4 separate regions of the Homo sapiens genome follow, and regions 2, 3 and 4 are each linked to region 1. Evidence: fine-mapped expression QTL. A gene starts in region 1. Each other region holds a variant in brackets. All regions are shown on one strand. Distances are from middle to middle.

Region 1 (8,609 bases):
GAAATTGGATTTATAGTTAAATTTTTTCAAAAAAGAAAACTCTATGTACGTACGGCTTCTCTAGTGAATTCTATCAAGTATTTAAAGAATACATTATGTTACTATAATTCAACACAAATTATTCCAAAACATTGAAGAGGGAAATTTTCCCACTCAATTTATAAGTTTGTTATTACTATGATACTAAAACTAGACAAAGACTTCACACACAAAAAAAAACTAATAAACAAAAAAACTATGGACTGATATCCCTCATACACATAGGTGTAAAATTTTTAAACAAAATTTTAGAACATTGAACCCAACAATAAATGTATAAGAAAGACCCTGACCAAGAAAAACAATGACCAAATCTAATTTTCTCCAGCAATAAAAGTGCACTCAACATTGAATTCACCAACATATTAGAGTGGAAAACCATACAACCATTTCAATAGATACATAGAAAGTGTTTGACAAAATTCAACATCCATTGTTGATTAATAAAACAACTATCAGCTATTAGTGAAATGCCTGATACCAAGGCTGGGTAGGAAAAATACAAGGTACACTCAGAGTCGTTCCGTGTTGGAGTCTTCATAACATACAGTCATGCATCACTTAATTATGGGGATACATTCTGAGAAATGCATCTTCAGACGATTTCATTATAGTGTGAATGTTATACAGTATATGCACACAAACCTAGCATATATACACAAACTACACATATATGGTATAGCCTATTGCTCCTAGACTACAAACCTGTACAGCATATTACTGAATACGGTAAGCAATGTAACACAATGGTATATATTTGCATATCTAAACAAAGAAAAGGTATAGTAAAAAAAAAAGTATAAAAATTAAAAAATATTAACAGTACACCTGTATAGGACATTTACCATGAAAGGAGCTTGCAGGACTGGAGGGTGCTCTGGGTAAGTCAGTGAATGAGTGGTGAGTGAATGTGAAGACCTAGGACATTACTGTACACTACTGTAGATTTTATAAACAATGTAGAGTTAGGCTACACTAAATTTATAAAACGATGTTTTTTTTCTTCAATAGTAAATTTAATTTCCTGTAGCTTTCTTACTTTATATTTAAATTTTTAAAAAACTTTTTGGCCGGGAGTGGTGGCTCACGCCTGTAATCCCAGCACTATAGGAGGCTGAGGAGGGGGGACCATGGGGTCCGGAGATCGAGACCATCCTGGCTAACACAGTGAAACCCCGTCTCTACTAAAAACACAAAAAATTAGCCGGGTGTGGTGGCATGCGCCTGTAGTCCCAGCTACTCGGGAGGCCGAGGCAGGAGAATTGCTTGAATCTGGGAGGTAGAGTTTGCAGTCAGCCAAGATTGCGACACTGCATTCCAGCCTGGACAACAGAGTGAGACTCTGTCTCAGAAAAAAAAAAAACTTTTTGACTCTAGTAACAACGTTAAGGTTAAAACACACATTGGAGAGCTGTCCAAAAATATTTTGTTTCTTTATATCCTTATTCTATAAGTTTTTTTATTTTAAAATCTATTTTTAATTTTTTTCCTATTCAAATTTTTTTGTTAAAATGAAGACACAAACACACATGTTAGCCTAGGCCTACACAAGGTCAGGATTATCAATCTCCCTGTCTTTCACTTTCACATCTTATCCCACTGGAAGTTCATCAGGGCAATAATGCACATGGAGCTCTCATCTATAATAACAATGCCTTCTTCTGGAATACCTCCTGAAAGACCTCCTTGAGGCTGTTTTATAGTTAACTTTTAAAAATATAAATAGGGCCAAGCATGGTGGCTCACGCCTATAATCCCAGCACTTTGGGAGGCCGAGGCAGGCAGATCACGAGGTCAGGAGTTCGAGACCAGCGTGGCTAATAAGTGAAACCCCGTCTCTACTAAAAATAAAACAAAATTAGACGGGCGTGGTGGCAGCTGCCTGTAATCCCAGCTACTCAGGAGGCTGAGGCAGGAGAATTGCTTGAACTCAGGAGGCAGAGGTTGCAGTGAGCCAAGATTGTGCCATTGCACTCCAGCCTGGGTGACAGTGCGAGACTCTGTCTCAAAAAAATAAACAAATAAATAAAAATAAAAATAGAAATAGAATGAATACACTCTAAAATAATGATAAAGAGTATAATATAGCAAATACATATACCAGTAACATAGTCATTTATTATCAAGTATTATATCCTGTACATAATTGTATGTGCTAGACTTTTATGAGACTGGAAGCACAGTAGGTTTACACCTATGTAGCCACAAACACGAGTGGTGTTGCTCTACAACTTTACGTTTACTACAATGTCGCTAGGTGATAGGAATTTTTCAGTTCTGTTATAATCTTATGGGACCATTGCCAAATATCCAGTCCATTCTTTACCTAAACTTCCTTATGTGGCACATATCTGTAATTCAAGACTGTAATTCAGTCTCCACCTTTCTACAGCATTCTTTCTAAAACACGTATGTTCTAGTCTCTTATCTTCAATTCATAAAGCTTAAGTGACTCCCTATTGCCTACAATACAAAGCCTAAATTCTATGCATAGCCTACAAACTACTTCATCATTTTACCTCAATCTTTTTTGGAGAGACAGGGTCTTGCTATGTTGCCCAGGCTGGTCTCCAACTCCTGGGTTCAAGCCATCCATGCACCATGACCTCTGAAAGTGCTGGGATTACAGGCGTGAGTCACCGAATCTGGCCAAAAATCGCTTTTGCAAACTTACTGAAGGCGATAGTACTAATAAACCTGTCTATTATCAGTATGTGAGCAATGTTGCTGTTTGAAGCTAAATCAACGAGAATGTAACATCCTACTCTTCACTAAAGGATGCAAGAGGAGTCATTACATTCAAAGAAGCAGGCTGGATTTACAACCCAGGTGAAAAACTTCATATAACGAGTTTGAGGACACAGCGTTTTACATTTTTTTAACTTGTAGTTTCCACAGAAACAGAACCTTAAGTTGGCTAGGAGTCAAGATTGTATTGTTCCTAACAGAACCCTAAACGGTGTTATTAATGGAACAGTGTTCCTGATGGAACATGGTGAAGACACAACACACTTTTCTCCTTTTGAATGATAGCTGCTTTCTTTACAATAATTTCCACAGCCCAATTCCTTCCCACTCCTGTATAAACATCTGTGATACCCAGCTCAAAGCTGATTCCAGCTTCCCCTATCCCTTTCTTAGACTCATTCAGCAAAAGCCAGTACCCTATTATATAGTGTTTTCTCTTACTGAGACGCTCCCGATTTCCCATGGTACTGTTTGCCCTTTTGCAAACTTTGATGAGTTTTTTGACACAAGACGCTTATCTGTCATTGCGTTTGCAAATATGCATTCAATAGCTTGGAGTAGAGAGAGAAATGTATTCATAAATGGCAAATATATTCATGTTGCCAAACAGCAACATAAGCAACAAAGTACGTGTGAGCACTACGGTCTTACATACTAAATCTCATAAGCCTAAAGAATCTACTGCAAATCCCTCTTTGAAAGATGGGGGGGAGGGGAAAGTAGCGTAAAGTGATGACCCAGAAACTGCGATCTTCCAGGCAAGAAGAGCGCCCAGCCGCACCGCACTCGGACCGAACTCCTCGCGTCTCACCTCAGGCGTCCTAAAGGCGGTGCGCATGCGCAGCGCCCGCCAGCCACGCCGCGGTTCCTTCCTGCGCCTTTATCTGCATCCGGGTCCGTGGGATTCGCGCTCCACTGGTCAGCTGGGGTCGCTCTCGGGTGGTTGGGTGTTGCTTGTTCCCGCTGTTCCAGCATCGAAGAACCATTGGGTCTGCCGGTAAGTTTAGCGGGGGGTGCGGCGGGGGCGCCAAGAAGGGGACTCGGGTCGGGGGACCCGACGGCAACTTCGCCCTGTGCGGCCTTTGTGCTGAGACTGGGACGCCGGGCCGGGGCGGAATGGGTGCTCAGGAACCTCGAGGCTGGGGGCGCGTGGGGTCTCCCGTATTGCCACTCGCGGACCTGGTTGTCCTCTCCGGATTTGTGCCTACGGGAGAAGGCGTCCCTGCCCTCTCCTCTCTCGCGGCTTCTTCTTGACACCTCTCTCTACACTCGTTAAAAATTCCTAACAGTCATCCTCATTTGCATTCGCTGTCCTTTGCCAAGTGAGGGCCAGGCAAACGCGCAGCTGAGGGGAATCTGCAGCCCCCGCCTCCCGGGCAGGAACCACAGCCTTCTTTGCTGTCTCTCGTCCCTCCTCGGGTCGGTCCCACACGCGCGGCCAGGCCACCCTTACGCTTTCAGGACAGGTCAGGTTGAGTAGGGAAAAGCTCAGAGCAGAGGTTCTGCAAGTGTAGATTCTGGTCTTGGCCCCGCCATTAACTAGCTGTGTAACTTCACGGGTGTAGAAGTTGTCATCCACCATTGAAGTTTTGCGATTTATATTCAGCAGCCCTTTTTCCTAGCGATGCACATCCAAAATGAATCAGCACCTGAAGGAAGACGAGGGAAAGGGTGGTGCTCTGTTGTTTTTTGATGCTGTCTTGTGATGCCAGAGAATTGCATAAGGCGACAATAGTTTGGATCTCTGAGGATTGGCAAAAACTGGAAAAGTCAAATCTTAAAAACTTAAATGTGGTGAAGAAATTCTTCTTTGCTCTGGGTGAAGGGATTCATTTGGGACTTTTGGAGGTGACTCTGCGCCCTCCAGAGAGTTTAAGAAAACAAAAAGTTGCCTGTACCTTGGTCTGAGAGACTTGCTTAAACTTCGTTTCAGTGAGATGTGTGGTGTTCTTAACAAATTTCACCTGATTATGAATATCCCCTGTGATAATTTGCAAAAGCAGAGATTCCTTGGACTTCATTTCAGATCTTTTGAAACACTGTGTCTAGGGAGAGGGACCTGAGAATCTGTATTTTTAACTAGCATCGTAAGTGATTCTCAACCGGTAAGACATCTTTGGCTAATGTCTCTTTGAGTCAGAAACACTTAGTTTTAAAGCCAGCTCCCCGGGCCACTTTTTAACGTCAGCAATAAACTTCTCGTAGTTGCAGTTTTCTGTATATGAAGAGTGAGAATAATGCTTTCAACCTCAGAGACAAGTGATTCTAAGCCCTTTGACAATAGAGTTAATCATTTTTGTGTCTACAGAACCTAGCATAGTGCTTAGAATATAATAGGTCTTCAAACGTGTGTTGAACTGAGAAAAATAACATGCCCAGGATGCAGAAGACATTGGAAAGCTCTAATGCTTCTCGTCCTCCTTACCTTATTTTTTTTCCGTTTTATTAACAATCAGCTGGCCATATATTCTTGTTAGAAGTAAATATATCTTTTGATGTTCATTACAGCCAATAATTCTTTCTGATTCTTTGGTTTAACTCTAAAATTGTTTTTGACATTAGATTATGGATTATATTTAAGTGGAGGCTGAGTCCAGTTGTTGGACTGAATTTATGACTTACTATGTAATTTATTTTCTGTAAATAAATAATTGTTATCGGGCCAGAATTCTAGATCATGGTGACCATGATTTTTTGTTGTTGTGTCAGAATTCGAAACTGTTACCTTCTTAAAGACATTTAGATTCCATACATTTATTTTAATAAGACCTTTTAATCTCATTAATTTAGAAAATTTGACTTATTACTCTATGTAAAGTGTGTGGGTACAAAACTCAGGAATGCTGAAACCATGTTATAAAAAGCTTGGTATTGGTGACTGATCCATTTAATATAAAAATAAGAATTAAAAATCTAAGAATTATGGGAATTATTACAGAATGTTCAGTAAATGTTATAAGGGGACGTTTATAAACTATTGATGGTAATGTCAGTTCAACTTCTGTAGAAAAAAGTATGAAGATTTCTCAAAGAACTGAAAATAGAACTACCATTTGATCAGGCAATCTCACTACTGGGTATCTACCCGAAGGAAAATAATTCATTATATCAAAAAGATACCCGCATTCATTTTTATCTCAGCACTATTCACAGTGAGGCAGTAGAATAGGGTCTGGAGGCAGAGGACTTAAGGCCAATTCGTGCTGACTTCCTAAAGCTAAATCAAAGGAAAACACCAAGGTCTGGGGGCAGGAAATCTAAGGCCAATTTGTGCTGACTTCCTAAAAGAGAAAACACCTGCGTCTGGGGGCAGGTAACCTAAAGCCAGTTAACCAATTAACGCAAACTTCCTAAAGCTAGACCAAAAGGAAAAAACCCATCTCCCCATGCCCAAGTAGCAAAGGACCAAAGGCTACTCTCCCTACGATCGACTGCCTTCCACCACCTCTCAGATGGAAGGGGAAAGTGCCTTGGATTGTCCGTGGACTAAGCATGGGCCATCCCTTCATCTGCATAGGGAGCCAATTCACCTCAGCCTTTAATTAGCCACGGACCAAATCCTTCATGCAGATAAGGGGTAACCGATAAGGGACCTCAAAAGGAGTATTAAAACCCAGAAAACTTTGTAACCGGACCCTTGAGCCGCTTGCTTGGGCCCACTCCCACCCCATGGGGTGCTTTCTTGCTTCAGTATCCCTGCTTTCGCTGCTTCATTCCTGTGTTTCGTTCCTTTTGTGCAGTTCTTTGTTCAAAATGCCAAGGAACTGGACACCTCACACTCATGACCTTCCTTCCAATAACAACAGTAGCAAAGATAAGAAATCAACCTGAGTGTCCATCAGTGAATGATTGGATAAAGAAAATGTGGTATATATATACACCGCGAAATTCAGCCATTGAAAATGAAATCATGTCCTTTGCAGTAACTGGAGGCCATCATCTTAAGTGAAACAACTCCCAAATAGAAAGAAAAATACCACATGTTCTCACTTACAAGTGGGAGTTAAATAATGTGTACACGTGGTGATGGAAAGTAGACTGATATTAGAGGCTTAGAAGGGTTGGGGAGTAGGAGTGGGTAGATGATGAGAAATTGCTAGGATCATTGTACATTATTCAGGTGATAGATACACCAAAACCCCAGACCTAGTCACTAAATAATATATCCATGTAACAAAATTGCATTTGTACCCCTTAAATTTATACCATTTTTTTAAAAAAAAGGAAAACAATATGTCTTACAGATAACAGAAGCTGTGAGTTACTGTAAGAATGCTGATTTCCACATCTTTCATGGTATAAGTCAACCTACATTGTGTAAAATGGAATTATGTAGCTTTTAAGTGACTCCGATCTCTTAATATACGTATAATAATTTTTCTTAATTTTAGAATAATTTTTGAGGAACTAAAATTGCTTTTTGTCAAGAAATTTCTCCTCCAGAGATGAGCAGTTTATTTAGTTCACTTTGTTTTCTTTTTCTTCTGTTGAATTCTCTTATTAAAAATAACATGTCTAGTGTGATCCTATTGTTATAATTTGAATTCTGACCTTGTTGCTTACTACCTGTGTGACCTTAGTCAAATTATGTGAGTCCATTTCCTCATCTATAACTGGGCATTTTATTTACTTCACAAGATGGTTGTAAGGATTAAAATATGTACACTTGTCCCTAGTATCTGTTGGGGATTGATTCTAGGATCCCCCTTCAGATACCAAAATCCACAGATGCTTAAGTCCCTCATATTGTATGACATAGTACTTGCATATCACCTGCACCCATACTCCCATATACTTTATCTCTAGATTACTTATAATACCTAATACAATGTAAATACTGTGTAAATAGTTGTTATACTGTATTGTTTAGGGAATAATGACAAAAAAAAGTCTGTACCTGTTTAATACAGATGCAAACATCTTTTTCCCCTAAATATTTTCAGTTCTTGGTTGGCTGAATCCTCGAATATGGAATCCACAGAAGGCTAACTATACTTAAATGACCTAGCCCACTGCCTTAAACTCAGTGTCTGCTCAAAAGAGAACAGCTATTACTATTTTTTAAATTCAGATTGTATATGTGCATGTCCTTCTTCAGTAATGTACTTTTAAAAATCATCAGTATATTCTGTTTCAGTGCTCTATTTATTATTTACATCTTTTAAAAAGTTACTGAATTTAAATTATCTGTTTATTATGTAAAGTGTTCTACAATGGACTTTTCTCAGGTTTGAACTTGTTCTGGAAGCTGTGCGTCACCGTAATGAGGCTTGTAATTCTTGATAACTATGACTTGGCTAGTGAATGGGCAGCCAAATACATCTGTAATCGCATCATTCAGTTCAAACCTGGACAGGACAGATATTTTACACTGGGTTTACCAACAGGTAATTAACTACTTTTTCCATTTTATATTCTGATATTATCTAAATTTAATTCTGATGGAATTGAAGGGTTTCTTTTAAGATACTTTCCCCATTCATTTATTGGCATGTCACTAATTGAACATCATAGTATAAAAGGCCAGAAAAATGCATATATATAAAATCTACTATCTACAATGTGTTACTAGTTCTTGTGCCAAAATTTAGTCTCACCTGTCACTCCAAAATGCAATAGGAAATATTGTAACTTAAGTGTTGTTCATATTTTTTGTACATTTTTCTAGTAGTCCTTTGTTTTGGGGAACATTGCTTTTACCATTCATACCAGTTTTTAGTTGATTGGCTTTCTTATTAATCATTAAGAGGTACCTAAGGTATGTACTGTTGCCTCTTAATTTAACTTCACCTGCCTTATAAATCCTTATTAATATAGAAGTT
Region 2 (5,000 bases), 86 kb after region 1:
GATTTTTATCAATAAAAAAGCCATTCGGATTCCTATTGCTAATTTGTTTCTACCAGTGTTTTTGATGATGTGCCTATTTTGCTGGAAAATAGATTAGGAATATTACATATGGCTAAGTGAACAATAATAGCAGGTAATCACCATACATTCTGGCAGGTTCAAATATTATTACACCAGGCTCTTGCTCTTAATGAGCATACATTTGAGTTAGTAAATGATTAAGTGTATATCTCCCCCCTCTATATCTGTGGCTTTCTTTTCCTAAATAAGTTATTCTCTTGGTCAGGCTTACTCACATAAAGGAGGTCGAATATGTTATTCTTAGATTTCATATTAAGATTAACATTCGAAGGAAAGTACTAAAGGCCATTTTGTAAATATTTTATCATAAAGAAATCACAAGGAGTTACCAAGTTCAGAACCTTGGACTGTACATTCAGTTTACCCCAAGGGCTTTTATGAAAGAAACTTAAAACGTGTTACTGGGCAGCTCTATGTTTCTTTCCATTCTTTAAGGTAAAAACAACTTAAAATGAATAAAAATAAAAAGCAAAAACATGTCAAAGAGGTATTATGGCTTGGCAAAGTTGAATTGCCCATTTTCAAAAAGGGACTCTTTTTTTTATTCAAGATGGCTGACTTGAAGCATTTCAAGCATGTTTTATCCACTTAGAAGAAGCAAAATGGTGTGTAGACAATCACACTTCTAATATATTATCCAAGGCAGAACATTGGAATTCAACAGGAAAGTGACAGAAAACACCAAAAGCTAGGAAGGGGAAGGAAAATAGGCAGCATACATGGCCAAGACCAGCCAAGAACCAGGAATGACTCTCCAGTACAGGAGAGGGTGAGTGAGAGTCTATACGTGGTCCACTTTCCTGCTGGGGAATTGCATAATTCAGGTTATGGGAGAGCACCTTGACTCTCTCAAACCCTAGATCTAACTTAGAAAGCAACCAGGAAACTGTGAGAAGGAACTGCTTTAGGGAGGGAGCATGCCTTGGGTTCCATGCTCTTTCTGAAACCCAAGCAGCTAAAGTAAGACACCATTCTAGATCTTAGCCCTTAACAGACTGTGTGAAGTCCTGAGAATTCCAGTCCTAGGCATTAGGGAAACTTAGGCTGGTGTTTGCAGAACCGGGGTGTGAACTAGGGGCTGGCCCTAACAACCAAGACTAAGAAGCTAGTGTGGCATGGGCTGCAGCCACCAGTGCAGGAAGCAGGTACTGCTCCTCCTACTTGAGCAGGATGAGAGTTGCCATGAAGGCTTAGTGTTGAGCTAAGTGGAGACTCCTATGGGCCATGAGCATGAACTGAGGGGCAACAGTTGGGTTGGCTATGACACCTGTCTGGACTGGGGGCTGTAAGAAGGAAGCAAGTCTCTTACTCACTGGCCAAGGCTAAGGCCACTGGGACTGGTCCCACCCTTCCCATGGAAGGACCTCAGTGCAGTGGTGACTACACTTTACCCAAGAATTCCACCAGAGGCCTGAGGACTGTTTCTCCCCAACCTGTCATGGCCAGTGCATGCACTCGTGACTGGGAGTCCTGAGTGTAAGCTTGCCCAGTCCAGCTCCATCTGGCTTTGGCCCTCAACCAATGATAAGTGACAAAATTGAATCAGCAATAAAGAGTCTGTCAACAAAGAAAAGGCCTGGACCACATGAATTCACAGTCGAATTCTACCAAATGTACAAAAAAGAAATAATACTAATCCTCTTGAAACTGTTCCCAAAAATTCAGATGGAGGGAGTTTTCTCTAAGTCATTCTACAAGGCCAGTAACACCTGATACCAAAACCAGACAAGGACACAACAACAACAAAAACTAGACCAATAGTTCTGATGAACATAGATGCAAATATCCTCAACAAAATACTAGCAAACCAAATGCAACAGCACATCAAAAAATAATATGCCATGATTTAGTAGGTTTTATACAAGGGATGAAAGGATGATTTAATACATGTAAAGCAATAAATGTGATAAATCACATAAACAGAGCCAAGGACAAAAAACATATGATTATCTCAATGGATGCAGAAAAGCATTTGATAAAATTCAACATCCTTTCATAATAAAAACCCTCAACAAACTAGGAATATAAGAAATGTACCTCAAAATAATAAAGTCTATTTAGGACAAATCCACAGATAACATCATGCTGAATGTGAAAAGTTGAAAGCATTTTTT[TC/C]TAAGAAAAAATGAAACAAGACAAGAATGCTCACTCTCACCATTCCTGTTCAACATAGTAGTGGAAATCTTATCTAGAGAAATCAGGCAAGAGAGAAAAATAAAAGCCATCCAAATTGGTAATTGGATGATATGATCTTATTTCTAGAAAAACCTAAAGAATTCACCAAAACCTCTTAGAGTTAATAAATGAATTCAACATACATATATAAAATACATATGTATAAAATACATACATATATAAAATCAACATACAAAATCAGTAGCATTTCTATACAGCAATAACTGTCTAGCTGAGAAAGAAATCAAGAGGGCAATCTCATTTACAATAATTACAAGCAAAATTTAGGAATACATTTATTAGCCAAGGAGGTGAAAGATATCTACAAGGAAAATGACAAACAATGATGAAAAAATATTGTGCATGACACAAACAAATGGAAAAACATCTCATGCTCATGGATTGAAAGAATTAATATTGTTTAAATGACCATAAGGCCCAAAGCAATCTATAGATTCAATGCAATCACTATCAAAATACCAGCAGCATTTTTTAACAGAATTAGAAAAAAACTATCCTAAAATTCATACAGAAGGAGAAAAAAGCCTGAATAGCCAAAGCAATTCTGAGAAAAATGAACAAACCTGGAGGCATCTCATTACCTGACCTGAAATTATATTACAAGGCTATAGTAACCAGAACAGCATGGTACTGCTATAAAAATAGACATATAGATCAATGGAACATAATAGAAAACATGTAAATAAGGTCACATATTTATAGCTAACTAGTCATTGACAAAGCTGACAACAACATAAGTTGGAAAAAGGACACTCTTTTCAATAAATGGTGCTGGGACAATTGGATTGCCATTTGCAGAAGAATTAAACTGGACCTCTATCTCCCACCATATACAAAAATAAACTCAAGATGGATTAAAGACTTAAACATAAAACCTTAAACTATAAAAATGCTTGAATAAAACATAGGGAAAACTTTTGGACACTGGTCTAGGCAAAGAATTTATGACTAAGACCTCAAAAGCATAGGAAACAAAAACAAAAATAGACAAATGGGATTTAATTAAAAACTTCTGCACAGCAAAAGAAATAATCAACAGAGTAAAGAGACAGCCAGTAGAATGGGAGAAAATATTTGGAGAATATTCATTTGACAGGGGACTAAAAACCAGATATACAAGGAACTGAATTCAACAGCCAAAAACCCTGAAACAATCCCATTAAAAAGTGGACAAGGAGTAAGGTGGTATTGCATCATGGTTTTGATTTGCATTTCCCTGATCATTAGTGATGCTGAGCATTTTTTCATATGTTTGTTGGTCATTTGTATATCTTCTTTTGAGAATTGTGTTTATGTCCTTAGCCTACTTTTTGATGGACTGTTTTGCCCTCACCTGTCATGGCTGGTACATGCACTCATGACTGGCGGGCCTGAGTGCAAGCTTGCCTAGTCCAGCTCCATCTGGCTTTGGCCCCCAGCCAATAATGATTCAAGATTGAATCGGCAATAAAAACAGCCAACAAACAGCCAAAAAAAAAAAAAAAAAAATCCTGAAACTCAACAGCCAAAAAACCCTGAAACAATCCCATTGAAAAGTGGGCAAGGAGTAAGGTGGTATCGCATCATGGTTTTGATTTGCATTTCCCTGATTATTGGTGACGTTGAGCATTTTTTCACGTTTCTTGGCCATTTATATATCTTCTTTTGAGAATTGTCTGTTTATGTCCTTACCCCACTTTTTGATGGGAATTTTTTTCTTGATAATTTGTTTGAGTTCCTTGTGGATTCTGGATATTAGTCACTTTTGAATACTATTCAGCCATAAAAAGGAACGAGTTAATGGCATTTGCAGCAACCTAGATGGAACTGGAGACTATTATTCTAAGTGAAGTAACTCAAGAATGGAAAACCAAACATTGTATGTTCTCTCTTATAAGTAGGAGCTAAGCTATGAGAATGCAAGGGCATAAGAATAATACAATGGGCTTTGGGGACTCGAGAGAAAGGATGGGAGGGGTGTGAGGAATAGAAGACTACAAATTGGGTTCAGTGTATACTTCTCAGGTGATGGGTACACCAAAATCTCATAAATCACCAGTAAAGAACTTACTCATGTAACCAAATACCACCTGTTCCCCCAAAACCTATGGAAATACAAAATTTTTTTAAAAAAGAAAAAAGTGGGCAAGAATATGAATAGACATTTTTCAAAAGAAGACATACGAATGGCCAACAAGTATATGAAACAATGCTCAACATCACTAATCATCAGAGAAATGAAAATTAAAACAACAGTGAGATATCATCTTCCCCCAGTCAGAATGGCTCTTATTAAAATGACAAAAAGTAACAGATGTTGATGAGGATGTAGAGAAAAGGGAACTCTTACACACTGTTGGTGGGAATGTAAATTATTAGCCTCTATGGAAAACAGTATGAAGATTTCTCAAAGAACTAAAAATAGAATGACTATTTTATCAAGCAATCCCACTACTGGGTATATATCCAAAGGAAAAGAAGTCAATATATCAAAAAGATACCTGCACTCATATGTTTATTGAAGCACTACTCACAATAGCAAAGATATGAAATTAACCTAGTATCCACCAATGGATGAATGAATAAAGAAAATGTGGTATATATACAATGAAATACCATTCAGCCATGAAAAGAATAAAATCATGTTATTTACAACAATATAGATGGAAATGGAAATCACTATCTTAAGTGAAACAAACCAGGCACAGAAAATCAAATATCACATGTTTTTACTCATAAACGTG
Region 3 (8,609 bases), 210 kb before region 1:
GATAAGGATAGGCCAGTATGGAAAAACTAAAATGAATTGAACTCTTGTTAAATTATAAATGTTTGGCTAACTTTCCCTAACTTGTTCCACCATTTCAAGATAGACTAGAGAATCACGGTAATTTAGAAATTGTTAAAAAAATTTAAAAAAGAAGGAAGATTTTGGAAAAAGGTAAATGACATTTCAAATTTCCTTCTAGCCTTTTCAATTCATATTACCTTATGTGCAAAACTGGCAAAATGATCCAGGAAGCATTAAGTGAGATGTGAGATGCTGAAGTTCTGTAAATTCCTCTAAATCTGGGTCCTCTCTTACATACTAGCCTATCCACCACATACTCCCTCTTTCTGGAATGCTTCTTACTTGCTTATCTTGGTAACCAGCAAAATTCTCAATTATCTGATGGATAAGTGAGAACTGCCTTTGTTTTATTTCCTCATTGATCCATCACCCCAATTTTATCACATGAATTTGATTGCTTTGCCACTTGTTTGTCTTTTCTTACAGAATGGATGCTCCACGAGGGCAGGCACAATATTATTTCTTCACTGTTAGCACCAATAAACAGTTGCCCAGCAACTGACACACATTAAATTCTCAATGTATAGTTTTTGACAAAATTAACACTATGATAAATGTTTATGCTCCTGCTCAAACTTGGATTTGGCCTTAAGATGTACTACAGCCCACTAAGCAAGGAAAAAGAGACATGTTGAAAGCCGAGGTGCCTATTATGAAGAGGAAGCTTTGACATGTTTCTAAGATTTTTTTATTCCTATCATCATCTTTTCTTGTGCCAAGAAACATTGTGAAGAACTGTGTAAAGGATGAAAAATTTGCCTTTTATTGCCTATGAACTATTTAAAGATTCTTTAACTTGTAGAAAACAGGTAATAATGCAAATAAATTGGGTTCAGTGGACTAAAATTTATCATTTCCCTATGCATATGGGCCAGGTTTACATCTACTTATAAATGCATTTATTATTTCTGATTGCCTACCTTAAAATATCTTTCAGATTGAACTAAATGAAAGATAAAAAAGAGTATGTTATAAAAAATATTTTTTCTGAACGCCACATGATGCTGATTAAAAAAAAAAACACATGAATTTGACACAGTAAGCATCCTCCTGTCATTCTCAGCTTGTTCCTTATAATCACCTTCTTTATCTAATAACAGCAGGCTGGAACACGTTTTTTAATGACAACATGGTATTTAATCTTTCATTTTTAAAAGGAACATTAATTATGCAGTTTCATAAAAAATAAACGAAGGTGAAGATGTATGCCAACATCAATTTACAGCATTCTTTTGTTTAATTAATATTATTTCATGTTTTAATTTGAAGTGGGTTTTGCTCATCAACATGAAATGTTTAATTTATATGAAACTTCATTCAGAAGACTGCCTCCGGAGAAATAACAATTTATTCCAGGCTATGTACACACATTTTCAATAAAATATTCAGTTCACGGGGGATTTTGTTGCAAGCATCATTCACAGTTAACTTGAGCTCTCAACGATCCAGGCTAATTCTAGATAAATACATTACTTGGTAATTTATAGAATATGCAAATAGAGTGATTTTCAGCCTTTGATTGTCTCCAGTTCCTACCAATTTAATTTCCCTACATTTGTCAAATCCACGGTCCAACTGATTTGAACTGGCAACATCCTTATTCAAGGTTCTTATTGTCCTTATTCAGATCGTAACAGTAATCTCCGAAGCTGGTCTCCCCAGTTCTTTTTACATCATCCGCAATACAGTCAGAGTAACCACTTCATTTAACCCAGAACCTTCTACATTCTCTTATAATTCCTTTTTTTTTTTTTTACTTTTAGAGAGCACAAACTATGCAATATTAATATTCTACTTAAATATTTAAATGAGCCCTCTTGTCACTTGCCCCCAACTCCACTCACACCCTGTGCTGCATAGTTCTATTTGCAGGTCTCCGAAGCTTTCTTAAATTCTATCCACACTCTTTCTGTAATATTCTTCAACACTCCATATTCCTTCCAATTCTGACTAATTCCTATTCATCCTTCAAATCCCAATTCAGAGCAACTTCTTCATGAAATCTTCCATGATAACTGCCTGATACAGATTTATCAGATTTAGTCTTCCGAGCTTCCAAAAAACTCCATTTATATGTAGTTCCTCACTATTCTGTAAACGTCTTAAGATCTAGGACTTTATTTCAGTTGTAATATTTTGACTGATTTACCTGGATATTACTGGGAAATAATAAAATCCTATGAATGCACTTTTTGTAAATGTGAACTTGTTATGTTTTATGCAGCCCAATTAAAGTCCCCAGTTGTAGTTATCCATACATAATTAAGAACACCGAATAATTTCAGGCATTTTTGGGGGGAATGAACACTAACAATTTCAGAAATAGAAAACTAGGAGAAATAGTGGATTTATTTTTCCACACATTTTATTATCTCCAGGAGACTATTTGTGGAAAATTATATTTAAGTACGAAAATTTTATTATATCCAACAAATATTTAATTTCACCAAAATATACCAAGACCTACCATTAATCAGATATTCAGGGTGTAAAGATCATTAAGATACCTCTCTGTCAGTAAATTTTCTTCCAATATAATAAATTGATCTGCATGAAATTGCCATTTTAGTAAGTCAAAAATAGTCAAGTATCGGCGATTTGTACAATATTAATACTCGGGACAATTTGATATGGTTCAAAGTAGTATTATGGAAATAGATACAGAACTTAAAATATCAAAAGTAGAATGTCTAAGGCTTTGAATAGAATAAGAAGTGCACTAAGAACAAAGGTGTGTAAAAACAATACTAATTTGGGGTGAAATTTCTAAAAAGTCACAAATAGGAATTGGGCTAGATCATAAAGCACCTTTACAATTTCAACAGATAAATACATTGGAAAAGCCACACTGAAAAGGTACATTAAAAATGAAAATGTTTTTCGTGGAAAGTAACAAGTCTCACTAAGGCTATTTTGGATGAAACAAGTGAAAATATATTCAAATTAGCACTAAAGGAGGCTATATCTTATACAATATATCCTCAAAAAATCAAAGATAAGAAACAAACTATACCTAGGTCTGATGGGAATTTGAACTGGAAGTTGGAGTGAAGTCTTATGTCATCATATCTTGGATATTAGGTATTAATTGTTCCAGGATAACCAGACTGCTTGCATTCAGATCCCAGTTTACCCACTCTACAGATACATGACTTCGGGTAAATCATTCACCTTCCTTTTAAATGCAGGAAAATTGTTCAATTCCCACCTATGAGTGAGAATATGCGGTGTTTGGTTTTTTGTTCTTGCGATAGTTTACTGAGAATGATGGTTTCCAATTTCATCCATGTCCCTACAAAGGACATGAACTCATCATTTTTTATGGCTGCATAGTATTCCATGGTGTATATGTGCCACATTTTCTTAATCCAGTCTATCATTGTTGGACATTTGGGTTGGACAATGAGATCACATGGACACAGGAAGGGGAATATCACACTCTGGGGACTGTGGTGGGGAGGGGGGAGGGGGGAGAGATAGCATTGGGAGATATACCTAATGCTAGATGACGAGTTAGTGGGTGCAGCGCACCAGCATGGCACATGTATACATATGTAACTAACCTGCACAATGTGCACATGTACCCTAAAACTTAAAGTATAATTAAAAAAAAAAGTCATTCCTACAAAATAAAAAGCAAATTAAACAAAATAAATAAATAAATAAATAAATGCAGGAAAATTTTTGTTGTGAGGATTAAATGATGTTAACATATGCCAAGTGCCTAGATAGGGTGAGGCATACAGTAAGTGCTACAGAAGGATTTACTAATCTTATACTTACTGGGCTGCTCCATTTTACCTTTTTTTCTCCATTGACTGGATTTCACCAACTCATCTTGCTTGTTCCTCAGCATGGAAGCCTCCTGTACCCTCTCTATAGCATGTAACTGCCTTCTATCTGGCAAGATACTGCACTGGATTTAAGTTAAATATATGTTTCAGGTCCTGTTGATCACAGATAGGAAATGAATGAAAAGCTAGGATATGAAAAGCTTTAAGAATCTCTGTGGGTCAGACAATGAAATATAGCTTAAAAGAAATATGTATGGTTTAATATTTTAAAAGTACTGAAGATAATGACTTAATGATTAGTCCAGGATAATTTTTTAAGTTTGTAAAAATGTGCAGGCAAATTAGAGGCCAATCCTCAGGTCTGTGACTATCCTAATGAGAAATGTACACTCCATTCCATGAGTAATAGGGAAACATCAAAGACTTTAAGCAAGACAGTGTTTAAAGATAATAACTTTGAAAGCAATGCGGAGATAGAAATAGATGGTTCAGAGATAGTAGGATATGAGAGGAAAGAAGACAGGATGAGAACCTAGTGCAGGGTTTACCCTACATGGTCCACACAGAAAAATCAGTAGTCATGAGAAAAAGCTGAATTCTATATCATTTTACTGATGTGTGAACCAAGAATTACCTATAGCTGTGTAGCAAAGATAGTTCTCTTTTCTAAAAGTATATGAAAATACATTAATGTGTCCACATCACCAGGATGGCTATAAAGATCAAATTGGATCACATATATGGTCATATATATGCATATATTTGTATAGATATATGTGTGTAATAATATTTACATGTGTATATATGTGTGCATGTGTATATATATGTGTGTATCTATGTGTTTATATATATATATATATATATATAATTTTGAAGACTGTTAGACTGAAAGGCATTTACTAATGCTTATTTACTATCTGAAACCTACTGTCCAATAAAATCAATTCCCAAGGAGAATGTTTGTTCTGTAATGTACTCAGCAGTAGAAGCTCAAGCATCACTCGTATTTCTACACCAAAAACCTAGTTCCAGAAGATTTGTAGCACAAATTCTAGCTGAAAACAAATCTTTCCTCTTCTCAACAAAACTTTTACTTTCTCTCTTCCATAGCTGTAGTAGCACATTTAGATTTTCAAAAAACAGGTGGTTGAAGCTAGCAGTGTAAAAAGTATTTTACATTCTATCTGATTCAGCTGCAGTGATTGCAAATAAATTAGCTTATAAATCTTCAGAGTTCAGCCCTTGATAAACCCCAAATATGCCCTGTTACATCTAGAATTTCTTCTGCTTCTGGGAATCCTTAAACTTTTCAAATATGACTGGTTTTAAAATCACTTGAACCTTAAATAAATAAACATTCAAGGCCCAAAACTATTCTACTCTATTTGTTCAGTTCCTGAGTTTTGCTATCATCACTTCATTCTTTCCATTCTTCTCCTGCATTTTCTTAAAGACTTTCCCTTCAGGATAAATATCTTCTGTTTCATCATTTCTTTTTCTCCTATGTCAACAGCCCTAAAATATATTGCTTTAGCAAAATACAAGAATATTAAATACATTTTCTAGTGTTATTCTTTCTAAAAATTAAGTCAGTTTTAGCATGTATTTGCTTGAATATTTTATAAAATATGTAATGACTGGAGGCTACTGTTCAGGCAACCAGATAAATCACACTAAGAGTATATGGGAATATATATTTCATTGACAGTTCTTGAAAGTCTTAAGACTTTGTTGAAGTCTAATTCGATAATTATTTGTGGAACAATACCTATATAAGGTACACAGTGCTCAGAAGTAAAATCCCCATAAATAATGTCTTTATTATTATTGCTACTGGAACTAAATCTCACCATTTTGCTGGAGAGTGAATAAGAAAAAAAGTTATTTTGATGTTTAGCATACAAAAGCATACTAAACTAAAACAAGCACAAATTTGTGGGTCATGGCCACCTTATAATATCTCAAACTTACCCAAAATGCAGGTCATCTTAAAAGGATTAATAGTCATTTTTGGCCTTGCAGCTAACATATTATTTTGAGTTCAAATCAAATTTAAACATTTTATTGCAATGATTTTGTGCACCTGAAGGTCTGCAGAATGCTGAAAAGCTATTTTTAACAAATCAATATTATTGTTCTCC[C/A]AAATTTGGAATCTCTGAGAAGAGTTGATAAGCCATGGTTTCTGATTATGCATTCTTGCCTAGTGTTTTGAGGCTTTAATGCATTCTTGCCTAGTGTTATGAAACTTCAAATCAGCAAAACAAAGTTTGCCATAATGTCTCCCTCCTCCTGTGTTGAAAATGTTTGTGCTGCTTGCATGTTTAGTTCTTGCAGGAAACAGTTAATACAGTCTTTTTCTCGGTTTACAGGGAATATAATTTTCTGATATTATAGATGGCTAATATATATTATGTGTCAATGTTCTAAATGCTTTTACATATATGAATGCATTTAATACTCACAAAAATCCTATATAAACAGTAGTATTAGTAGCACCACATTATGTATAGGAAACAGAAGCTAAGTGGTGTTAAATAACTTGCTGAAGGTAACACACCTAGAGCTCAGACTACAGGCTTCAGTGTCCACATCCTTACCATTCACTCTGTACAACACTTCAATTAGCACAAAGGATAATTTAGTTAAGATACAAAATATACTCAAGTAATATTACTAAAGATATTGATAACATTTTCTATAACCAAATGCAAAAGCACAAAATAAGAAGGGCACCTTATGAGATATGCCAAAAACATGGACTTTTTGACTATGATTCAATAGCATAATAATGTTGCTTATAGTTCTGTATTTGTAGGATACAAAAATAAATTATTATATGCTTTAATCATTTTTGTTAAATCTTGACTAAATATATGTTTGAACCAGAGGCCACAAGTCTTAATTCTTAATGAAAAACCTATTAATTACCACAATATTTACATTACATTTATTTTTTGTATCTTGCCAATGCAAGGTTAAGTTTCTTTCTAAATCTATCTAAAAAGGGCAAAATTCTATGTTGTCATCTAAGGACTATTAACATGTATTCTTGAGACCATTATTTCACTTAGTAAGCAACTACATTTGTTAAAATGCTTGTTCTAGAAAAAATATATTTGTTCTCTTCAATTTGTAAATCTCCTTTGTCATAGAGAGTTGATTTTGTTCACTAAGCTTGTGAATATTAGCCTATTCACTCTCACCTTACTGATCTTTTCATGATTAATCAATTATAGGAAATCATGCTGATTCCCACAAAATAGGAGAAATTCCTTAAGGTCCTTCTCCTTGAAAGAAAAAAAAGGATTCATTTGATAAGTTTAATAAATGAGTGGCTCTAACAGATGAACCTTAGAACCCAATGCAGAATCTTGATTGATTTTTCCACCTCAGGACGACACTAACAACATAGAGGTGACTTGAAATAAGGGACCCAATGAGGATAGACACAAACCATATTCTTTGCTAAAGAGTTAAAATAAGTGGAATTATTTAATCTAGGGGGAAAAGAACCTCAGGACAAAGAATAATAACATTTGTGTAACATTTACAGCTCTTAATGAAATCTATTTTCCATTATTGTTGAACATGCTATGCTTCCTTTGGTGAAGTCTAAAATTAGCATAGCCATTTTTTTCTATGTGTCCATGTATGTACACACGTATGTATATGTATATTCATTTATTTAACTTGAAAACCCCTATGTGGTAACTATTTTTATTACTAATATTATCTATGACAATGACAATGATGATCCTTTTATGAAAATGTAAACTAAGGTATATAACTCATGTATGGAGAAATTTGGATTTGAACTACACAGTCTAGTACAGAGTCCACATTTTACATGGCACTGTCTCACATAACAGAACTGTTTAAACAGTTGAAGGTCTGTTATGTCAAAAGGGTAGTAGATTTTATAAATAGGACAACTTATGCCAGCTCATCTTAGTTTCAGAACTAGATGGAACCCAAAGGAAGAGAAACAGTGACCTGTTGGGGCCAGCCTGTCTGACCAAGAAAGCAGGATCAATACTTTGGGGCAAGGTTTCTCAACATTGGCACTACTGACATTTGGGACTAAAAAATTCTTTGCTGTGGAGGTCTCTATGTACTTCAGGATATTTAGCAGCATCTCTTTCCTCTAGCCCCTAGATTCCAGTAGCAACCCCTCAATCATGATAACTAAAAATGCCTCCAGACATTGCCAAATGTGCCCTAGAGGTCAAAATCACCTTCACTGAGAATCATTGCTTTAAAGACAAGGACAGAAAAGGTTCCCTTTCAATGCAAGAGAAAGTTTACCAGAATAGAAGGTTTAGTTAGAAAGAATGAATAAGATCTAGTATTTGCTAGGACAACAGGGTGACTATAGTCAAAAGTAATTTAATTGTATATTTTAAAATAGCTTGAAGAGTATAATTGGATTGTATGTAACACAAAGGAAAAACACTTGAGGTGTCGTGTACCACATTTACCCTGATGTGATTATTACACATTGCATGCCTATATCAAAATACCTCACGTAACCCATAAATAGATACACCTACTACATATCCACAAAAACTAAAAAAAAACACTACAGAAGACAAAAACATACAACAAAGGAAGAAGCTGTATACATCCAAAACCTTGATAAAAAGTAAAAATTACCTAAAGTAACTGATACACATCCAGAAGAAAAAAATAAAAAGGTGTATTTTGAAAGGAAAGGTACTATCTCTCCAATTTCAA
Region 4 (8,609 bases), 21 kb after region 1:
TTTAGGTCTAGTTATAAAATATGTAATACAAAATTTGTTATATTTTAGAACTACAGCAATTTTAACATTGTTTTTTAAAACAATTGTAATGAGGAAAAAAAGTTTAAAGATTATATTACAAAAATATGTGTGTAGATGAGGTGTTAAATGGGATCAATTTCCAGCTTAAACATGATAAAGAAAAGATTCCGACACATACACATTCACATTTGCAACATGTCATTGCATTATTTCATTGGCATTTAGGGCCTGGGGACCAAGAGCTTGGATTTTCTGTAGCTTATAAGGGTAATATCAGTCATATGTGATTATAAGACAGTTCCTATGTGCTTATAAGACAGTTCCTATGTTTAAGTAGATCCCTAATCCTTTTTTAAATCCAGTTTTTATTCTGAGTCAACTTTGAATAGCACATGTTCAGTGAAATGCTCTTCAGGCTTTTCTTGATAACTCTTCAAATTACCTGTTGTTTTAGAGTCTTTGCTTTTCTGACATAGTATCTTTTGCTTATCTAGACTACAGCAACTTGGTGTATCATTCTAGATTGTATAAATTATTTATAGATTTGTAACTCTGCTTTTGCAACACAGTCCTTTTGTTTCTTTTTCTTCATTGTCCCAGGTTTCTTTTATACATCATCATTCACTATGTTAAAAGTTACAGGTATTATAGTGTTTGCATTAATAACCCATAACAAGATATTGTTTTGCTTTGTTAAACTAGAAGCAACATTTTGTGCTTGTTAATCTTAAAAAGTAGAAATGAATACCTTGAACTATTATGTGGAGCTATGTATTTTTCTTTCTCTCAGAAAAAAATATTGGTGCTTAAGTTCTCGTTTAAAAAAAATAGAGCTTCTTACTCATTTGGAACAAGTTTTAACAATTGATGTTCATAATTTTTCAGGTAATGATCCTTATAACAGGGGCACACAAGGCATTTGCCCTGTACAAAGCAATAGAAGAAGGAGTCAATCACATGTGGACTGTTTCCGCTTTCCAGCAGCATCCCCGGACTATTTTTGTATGCGATGAAGATGCTACTTTAGAATTAAGAGTTAAAACTGTGAAATACTTTAAAGGTGAGCACTGAATTTCAAAAGCCGACTGAGATAATCTGTTGTGAGTGACAATTAAAACTTACTGTGACTGTGGGGTTAAATCTCACACTGTGACCTATTGAAAAGTGGCAACACATAGCTAGTTCTTTCAAGTAATGGAAAGTTCTCACCTCAGATAATAGTATCTTCAAAGTAGTACCTTTTTTTTTTTTTCATGAAGAGAATCTCTTCAGTCTCTATTTTCAGTAAACAATTTTTCTTGAAATCCAAGGTTTAATAATTTACTTTCATATTGAATATACAAGACCAAATAACCCAAAAGAAAATGTATCTTTGTCCATTCTGGATTTCTTTTCATGTTTACTAGTCCCACCTCAATCCCTCTTCCTCACTCCCCTCTAACCTTAATTTAGAACCTAATCAGTGGATAAGAGATCTCCCACTATCTAATTTAATCTTTACAATTTTAAGCCAATTTATTCCCATATATTAAAGTTATAATGTCTAAATGTTAAAATAGTATGGAATAAACTCTGCAAGTAAGCAGGAGTTTGATTGCCCAGACTTCATGTTGATTTTCCTTTTTCCTGTAGTCTAGTTCAGTAATTCAGAAACCTTACTCTACCAGGCTGTGTATTACAAAACACATATGCTTGATATAATGGTTTTAAGAGATTTTCAAGGGACATTTTGCCTATACCCAATGTAGAACCTATTCTCTGATTTAAGAGTCAGCTCCACATATTACACATATGTAAGCAAACTGTACAAACAGGTAATTTTCATAAAGCACCTGTATTTACATAGCTGATATTAAAAGTTACATAGTTGATCATATAGATAGGTCAGTGATTCACTATGTAGTATGTATGCTACTTTTGCTACATGATTATACCTTTTAATCTTTTTTACTCTAGTAACTAGGTATTTATTTTAATGCCTATTGGAAAATACACTGAATAAATCAAAGCTATATTTTTTGGATATTATTGCTTAAGACAAGGTCCAAAAAAGCTACCATATTTGATTGGCTCTAATACACGTTGATCTTGCTGATGTTGGACTGTGTCTTAAAACTGGTGTCAGATCATAGCTTACTGGGTAGCATTTTTTTCTCAGTGGTACATAAAATGGTGTGTCTTACAATTTATAGCATCTCATACTCAGAAATAAAGTATATAATCTTAAATTTTTAATTCAATGCAAAGAAAACCAACTCATATTTCATGTATATGTGTGAATATGGCAAATATCTTGAAGGTGTTATACAAATAACTGACATTTGGCAAGCACTGAAAATAGTCTATTTTTAAACAAAATGCTGATCATGCTTTGTATATAGTTTTGTATTTGTACTTATGTTTCATGAGCATTTTCCTGTTTTACTAAATATTTGGAAGCATTTTAATGGATAGTTAAGTACATAAATCATAATTTATTTAAACATTTCCTTATTAACACTTAGATTATTTCTAGTCATTTATATTTTTACCATTTAAATTACTAATTTACCAAGCCACAAATATATCAAACTGAAAAACTGAAAAACTGAAAAATTTCTGATTTGTGAATAAAAGAGCATTTGATGGAGTTTTAACTCTATTTTCCCATGTAACCCTTCAGATTTCATCCCAAATAATAGATTCCTTGACTACAAGGAATCCTCACTATCCACAAATTTTAATTCCAGTTTTAAGGAGATTCATTTAACATGGCCATTTTCTAGTCCTCATTAAGTCCCAGATAAATCCCTGTACTAATCTAATTTTGTCACAATTAGGTTTTTATCAGATTTTTATATCTTGGTGAATATTTAATAAGATATTTAATAACAGCCAGTATCTCTATGACCAGGCACTATTCTAAATGCATTTTACTTATTGATTTACTTATCACAAAAATGTTATGAAATGGGTATTCATAGTCCCATTTTTAAATTAATAGGCTTAACAGACAGAGACGTTAAGCTACTTACCCAAAGTCATACAGCACATATTTGGGCAGAGCTGGGTAATAGAAATCAAAATCAGGCTGATCTCTGGAGTATGCAGGCTTTTGTCTATTCTATTATACTGCCTCCCAGAATAAACTCTAGGTATGATACCATCTACATCAAAACCATATTTCCATCTGCTTTTTTCCCATATGATAATCACTGCTTCCAAAAAAGGTATATCGACATATGTTAGATAATTTAAAATAGAAGGGTGGTAGATGTTTATATGTATTTAGTTCTTTTAGTTCATCTAATTGTAAGCTCTTCTGAAAAATTTTGAAACAGACCATTCGTGAGAGGATAGCTGCACTGCATCAAGAGGACACAGTATTTTCCACTTTGGAGCTGTCTGTATTTCTGAAGAGGTTTCAGGGTATCAGCCTGTTAGGATACCTCCTTCAATATGAAGACAGAATTTAGACATTCTGGGCTACATATGGGCCTCATTTTACAGCATTTTAGTAAAGGGTAGAGAAATTGAATATTCTTAAATAAACACATTTCAAATGTAGTTTGTATACTTTTCATACCTCCATTGAGTTACTAGTATATCAAAATACTGGAGGATGTAAATTCCTATAATTGTCATCCATAACTCTTCAAATTCCATTCACATCACTACCCTTTCTTCTGTCATCACTAAAAAGTGCTGACCAGAATCTTAAAGGGTTTTATTTAGTGCCTAGATAAGATCTAGGTTAACTAGATCCAAAACAATAAAAATTGTCAGTAAATGCAAGTTTATTTCAATATATACCTATATAACGGTATATACCTTTTGAAAGATACAAGTTAATCACAAGACAACAAGTTTAGTACGTGGGGATTTGTTTTATTCATTCTCGCTTTTCATTTTTGCTTTTTAAATAGAACAGCTTTGATTTTTAGTATATGACATCATCATCATGAATTTTTTTCTCTTACTTTGTATTTAGGCTCCACCTCAGTAGTTTGACAAAGGTAGAATGAGTTCATTTTGAGTCAAAACCATAAAAGTTACTTTGTATAGACATTGGTTAGAATCTGTGACATTTAACCTTTCTTCTGGTAACGTTTCAGGAAGTCTGGTGCATTTTTATCAGAAGAATTATTTCTGTTTGACTTAAGTAGCAATTATTTATTTATATAAAATTCGTATGTAGAAAGTTGTCAGTTTTTACCTAAAGTCACAGTAAATATTTGACTTAATATCTAAAAAGCAATTAATAGAATTTTCAAAATAATTATTTCTAGTTTGGAAGCAGTCCTATTTGATGTATAAAAGATATATCCAATGTAAAGAAAAAAATTTTATAAAGGAGTTGAATTTTTAATATTTACTGATATTTTAATTTGCATGT[A/G]TTTTAAAGCTCTGTGTATTCTTTCCGTAATCAAAGTTGTTAGCAAATGACAGATGAATACTATTTAAGTAGAAAAACGATCCTCTACAAAGTGATACTCTGGAAAATGTTGCATCTTCTAAATCATACAGCTGATATTACCCTTATCTTTGTTGTCCCCTCTCCTACTGGACATGAAGTTTCAGGTGACCTTCAAGTAGGCTGTTGAGCAGTTGCAGGACTAGTGAATGGAATGCTTCCCCCTTCCCTCCTTTAGAGTCCCATTCTTATGGTTAGAATTTCTCCTACTACACAAACACTTCCCAGTACTCTTTGCTTGTCCCTTAAAAGTGGGTCTTTCTCAAAGCTGGGATTTTAGAGTCCTTTTTGCAGCCTTTCTGACAAGGAACATCTGTTTACTAACAAGCAACCTATCTCTCCAATCCAGTAATCCCATTTCCTGCAAAACCGCATTAAGTGCCTTTCCCCACCCTCCCATGTTCTTAATACCTGGAAAACTTAACTCATTTCTTTACCCTCCAAAATATAAAATCTCTGGTTCATTAACTGGGTCAGTCTTTTTAGAACTTTTTTCTCCCCAAAGAAATATAGTACTGAGGCATTAAAACAGGAGTAACTGGAAGATCAGCTATTTCCCAAGCAGCTTCCATAGCTAAGAGCAGTCTGCAAGTATATGTACCAATTACAAAATGAAAGTTATAATCTACCGGATTTAAAATCGTAATTTCTATTCTGAATTAAATGATTTAATACAGGTTGTTTTCTGTCTTGTTTTAGTAACCCTCCCTCAGTGTAGAATTTGTAATCAACCTTTGTCATAAATACACATGCCAAACTATTGGAAAGTAATTTACCAGACGAATGGATAGGGTAATGTATTAAGAGTGAGACAGCAGTTCTGAGCCCCTGGCTGGAGTCTAGTAGAGGAACTGCCAGAGGATCAATATCAACATAGACTTTTAGATATAATTAAAACCTATTATCTAAGTCAGTATTCAAATTTGTCATGCTTAATCTCTTTGAAGACAAGAAATGCTCTTCTGGTTACTCCCAAAGTACCTGTACACATTCTAGATCTGCACTGTTACATAATTATAAATTGGTATTTGCTAGGTAGATAAAACTTAAGACATTCTGAAACATTTCTATTTGTACTTTTTCAATAAACTTGACTATATCAAGATGGGAACTAAACAGGCTTACTGTGTCTTATAAAAAATACTTTGTTGTCTAAAGTAAATGAGATAGTTCAAAATTAATAAAAACAACTAGAACTGTGCTTTTTTTCTTTAAGGTCTAATGCATGTGCACAATAAACTTGTGGATCCACTATTCAGTATGAAAGATGGAAACTGAAGGAGACTGGAGCAAAATTCAGCTTGAATGAACAGAGCACTTTTTACTAAGTAGTAGATGAATTTTCAGCTATGCAATATGACAAAACATGGGGAATTTTGAAGATTGTCATTTTTTCATTCGAGTCTCTATGTTAAACATTCCATATTTTGAATATTTATATCTTGTACTTGGGTTTAAGAGAAGTAGCTGGCTCTCAAGATTGACTGGCTATTTATTATAAAGTACTGAAGTCACATAGCCACCTATAAAACAGCATAGAAATGTCTGCCTGTTTAAAAAGTCATTTTAAAGGTAGAGTGTCCACATCAGGCACCATTTGTGATATGACTCCAGTGGCGTATATTTCATTTTTTAATGACAAGACACTCCAAACCTTTCAGATAACAAACTATCATTGCAGACCTTCACTTTTGGAATGCAATCTTTATATTTTCTGTGCATCACACACATGCTTTTCTGCACGTGGTTGCCTTAGTCATCTTCCTACAGCACCATCTAGACATCAAAAATTGTGCTATATATCATTGGTAAAGGAAATTTGAAGAGATGACAGTGCCTAAAAGTACAGTTTACATCCTTTTGGAAAGTATGTGTAAGTGCATGTTTTTTGTGCACCTTCTTCTATAGCACTTTTTTACAAATATCTTATTTTTATTTAACGACTTGGGTTCATGTCCCTAATATAAGTATCTTGACAATTATGAGCTTTATACCTAGCAAGCCACTTCAGGAAATTCTTTTGGAGAATATTTTCTGATTATTGTTAAACTTAATATACAATTAGCTTTATTCCTTATAAAATGTCTAAAAGAATAATACGAAGTATATATAAAAGGAATTACTGTAAACTACATTGCCATAGCAATTTACATAAAAGTATATTGTTTTTTATCTTTAACTCAAATAAAGCGTGTAATAAATAAGTTATCTAAATTTCCAGAAGTGAACCTGAAGAATACATGCATTCGACTCCCAACAATTATAGTACATGTGAACCTGCATTCATTTTGGGTTTGTTACCATCATGCATTAGGAGAGTTAGGTTAAAAGATGTCTTTGCCTCTGTGGGGAGCAAAAAAATGCTCCTTTTGCTTATTTTGCATTTCATAAGCCCACCTGGTAGAAGAAGCCTTACTTATCTGCTTGTCTATGTGATTAAAATGTAGTTTCTTAAAATATTAAAATAGCAAATAAATTAATGAAATAAAATTGGTAATAGGGTTTTATGGTTAAAAGTGGGGGATGGGGTAAATTATGCTGCTTTAATTCCAGATGATGTTTTAATAGCCTTATAAATGTTTTTTAAATAACTAGTGAGTAACACTCCACTTACACTTCCAGTAATAAGAATCATTTACTACAAACTATGCTGACTACCTTAGAAAGTCATACAGCATCACAGTGAAAAAGCTAAAGGTACCTGTTGTGCTACATGATTCACCAGTAATTTCTCTGCTTTAAAGGTCTAAAAATTCTCCTTTCCATTTTCCTTCCCTTGATGTTAGGGGCTTAGTTGAGGTTCATGTACTCAAGCTCCTCCACAAGCTGAGGAGCGAAAACTCTGGCCATTTTCATTCCTGCTTTCATTCCCTAAATTGAGGAGCTAAGCTGCTGTTAGGCAAAGAACCTAGCTTTTTCAAGAAACCAACCACTGAATCCCAGCTCTGTCAGGGAAATAAAAAAGTCTCAGCTACTTCCCCAAAATTTTTACATAGATTGAATAAGGGAAGCATACATAGCTCAGCACAGTGGTTGTCACATATTAAAGTCAATAAACGGTGCTATTTTAATATTGATAACAGTGTTTAAACATATTTCAGTGTTTGCTAAAATCTTAGTAATATTAAGTCCTCTGAGGAATGCACTTATAAAGCACACAACTCCAAATCACTAAAGTCATCTGACTGGGAAAGCGGGAAGGGGAAAGAAATTAAGCTTACAGAAAATGCTTTTTTGTACTACAACTAAAACTATAACTAAAACTACTTTTTTGTACTACTATAACTAAAGAGTCATAGGTTAAAAAAAGGTAAAATTAGTCTGAATAAAAAAGACTAAGACTGGTAAATTATTAAATAGCAAGCACATAGTACATATTACGTTCCAAGAACCAATTTGTAACTTATCCTTTGGCAGTGATAGAACAGAACACTTTTACAATTTTTTAATTTCAAATACTGTCATTTTCAAAATACTACTGTCATGGTCTTTCAGATTTCATCTGTTTTTATCAGAACCTGGAAGAGGGAGGGAAGATACATAAGATGATAATGTATGTATCTAGGACTATATCACAGGCTACTTCTACACATGATTTTAAGTAAATCTCCACTTAATTTATAATTAAAATGATTTCACAATAACTGTAAGCTCAAAATATCTGAGACAGCTCTCAAGTCAGTTTAGAAAGTTTATTTTCCCAGGGTTAAGGTGTGCCCATGACACAGCCTCAGGAGGTCCTCACCACATGTGCCCAAGGTGGTTGGGGCACAGCTTGGTTTTACACATTTTAGAGAGACATGAGACATCAATCAGTATGTGTAAGGTGTACATTGGTCTTGAAAGGCAGGACAACTTGAAGAGGGGCGGGGGCTTCAAGCATAGGCAGGTAAGAGAGAAAGGGTTGCATTTTTTTGAGTTTCTGATTAGCCTTTCACTGAATATACAATTTACATGTGAGAGGAGAGTAGAGGAATAGTCAGTTATACCTTAATCTGGCTTAGTGAAACATGAAACAGAGAAAGCAATCATTTATGCATTTGTTTCATGTGAAGACTTTGAGTTCTTTGTCCATAAGGAATTCCCTTGTGAGCAAATTTTATCTTTGTGGCTGTCTTATTTAGGAATAAAATGG

Alleles and levels. Positions count from the first base shown, and alleles are read on the strand shown. Sizes are in standard deviations (SD) of each study's normalised expression. Not every link is listed here.
As copies of G replace A in region 4, the expression in tibial artery of the gene that starts at base 3,702 in region 1 goes up (moderate effect, 0.48 SD a copy in GTEx).

Evidence for each region. PIP is the estimated chance that this variant, and not a neighbour inherited with it, causes the effect.
Region 2: its variant is the best candidate, but not a certain one, in a credible set for the expression of GNPDA2 in atrial appendage (GTEx, PIP 0.68).
Region 3: its variant is the best candidate, but not a certain one, in a credible set for the expression of GNPDA2 in skeletal muscle (FUSION, PIP 0.66).
Region 4: its variant is the best candidate, but not a certain one, in a credible set for the expression of GNPDA2 in tibial artery (GTEx, PIP 0.67).

The regions. Positions count from the first base shown.
Region 1 is chr4:44,721,649-44,730,257 of GRCh38, reverse strand. It overlaps GNPDA2 (glucosamine-6-phosphate deaminase 2), which reads left to right and starts at 3,702. Exons shown (of 7, transcript NM_138335.3): 1 at 3,702-3,784; 2 at 8,016-8,174. The coding sequence starts at 8,051. RefSeq lists an enhancer at 3,370-3,499 and a silencer at 3,992-4,286.
Region 2 is chr4:44,636,975-44,641,974 of GRCh38, reverse strand. The region is part of intron 2 of YIPF7 (Yip1 domain family member 7); the gene reads left to right. Among named protein-coding and RNA genes, the nearest start is that of YIPF7, 12 kb to the left of the region's middle. The variant TC/C (reference allele first, on the strand shown) is at 2,196.
Region 3 is chr4:44,932,356-44,940,964 of GRCh38, reverse strand. No RefSeq gene overlaps it. Among named protein-coding and RNA genes, the nearest start is that of GNPDA2, 210 kb to the right of the region's middle. The variant C/A (reference allele first, on the strand shown) is at 6,017.
Region 4 is chr4:44,700,224-44,708,832 of GRCh38, reverse strand. It overlaps GNPDA2 (glucosamine-6-phosphate deaminase 2), which reads left to right. Exons shown (of 7, transcript NM_138335.3): 6 at 907-1,081; 7 at 5,691-7,038. The coding sequence ends at 5,752. It overlaps GUF1 (GTP binding elongation factor GUF1), which reads right to left. Exons shown (of 17, transcript NM_021927.3): 17 at 7,905-8,609. Among named protein-coding and RNA genes, the nearest start is that of GNPDA2, 22 kb to the left of the region's middle. The variant A/G (reference allele first, on the strand shown) is at 4,397.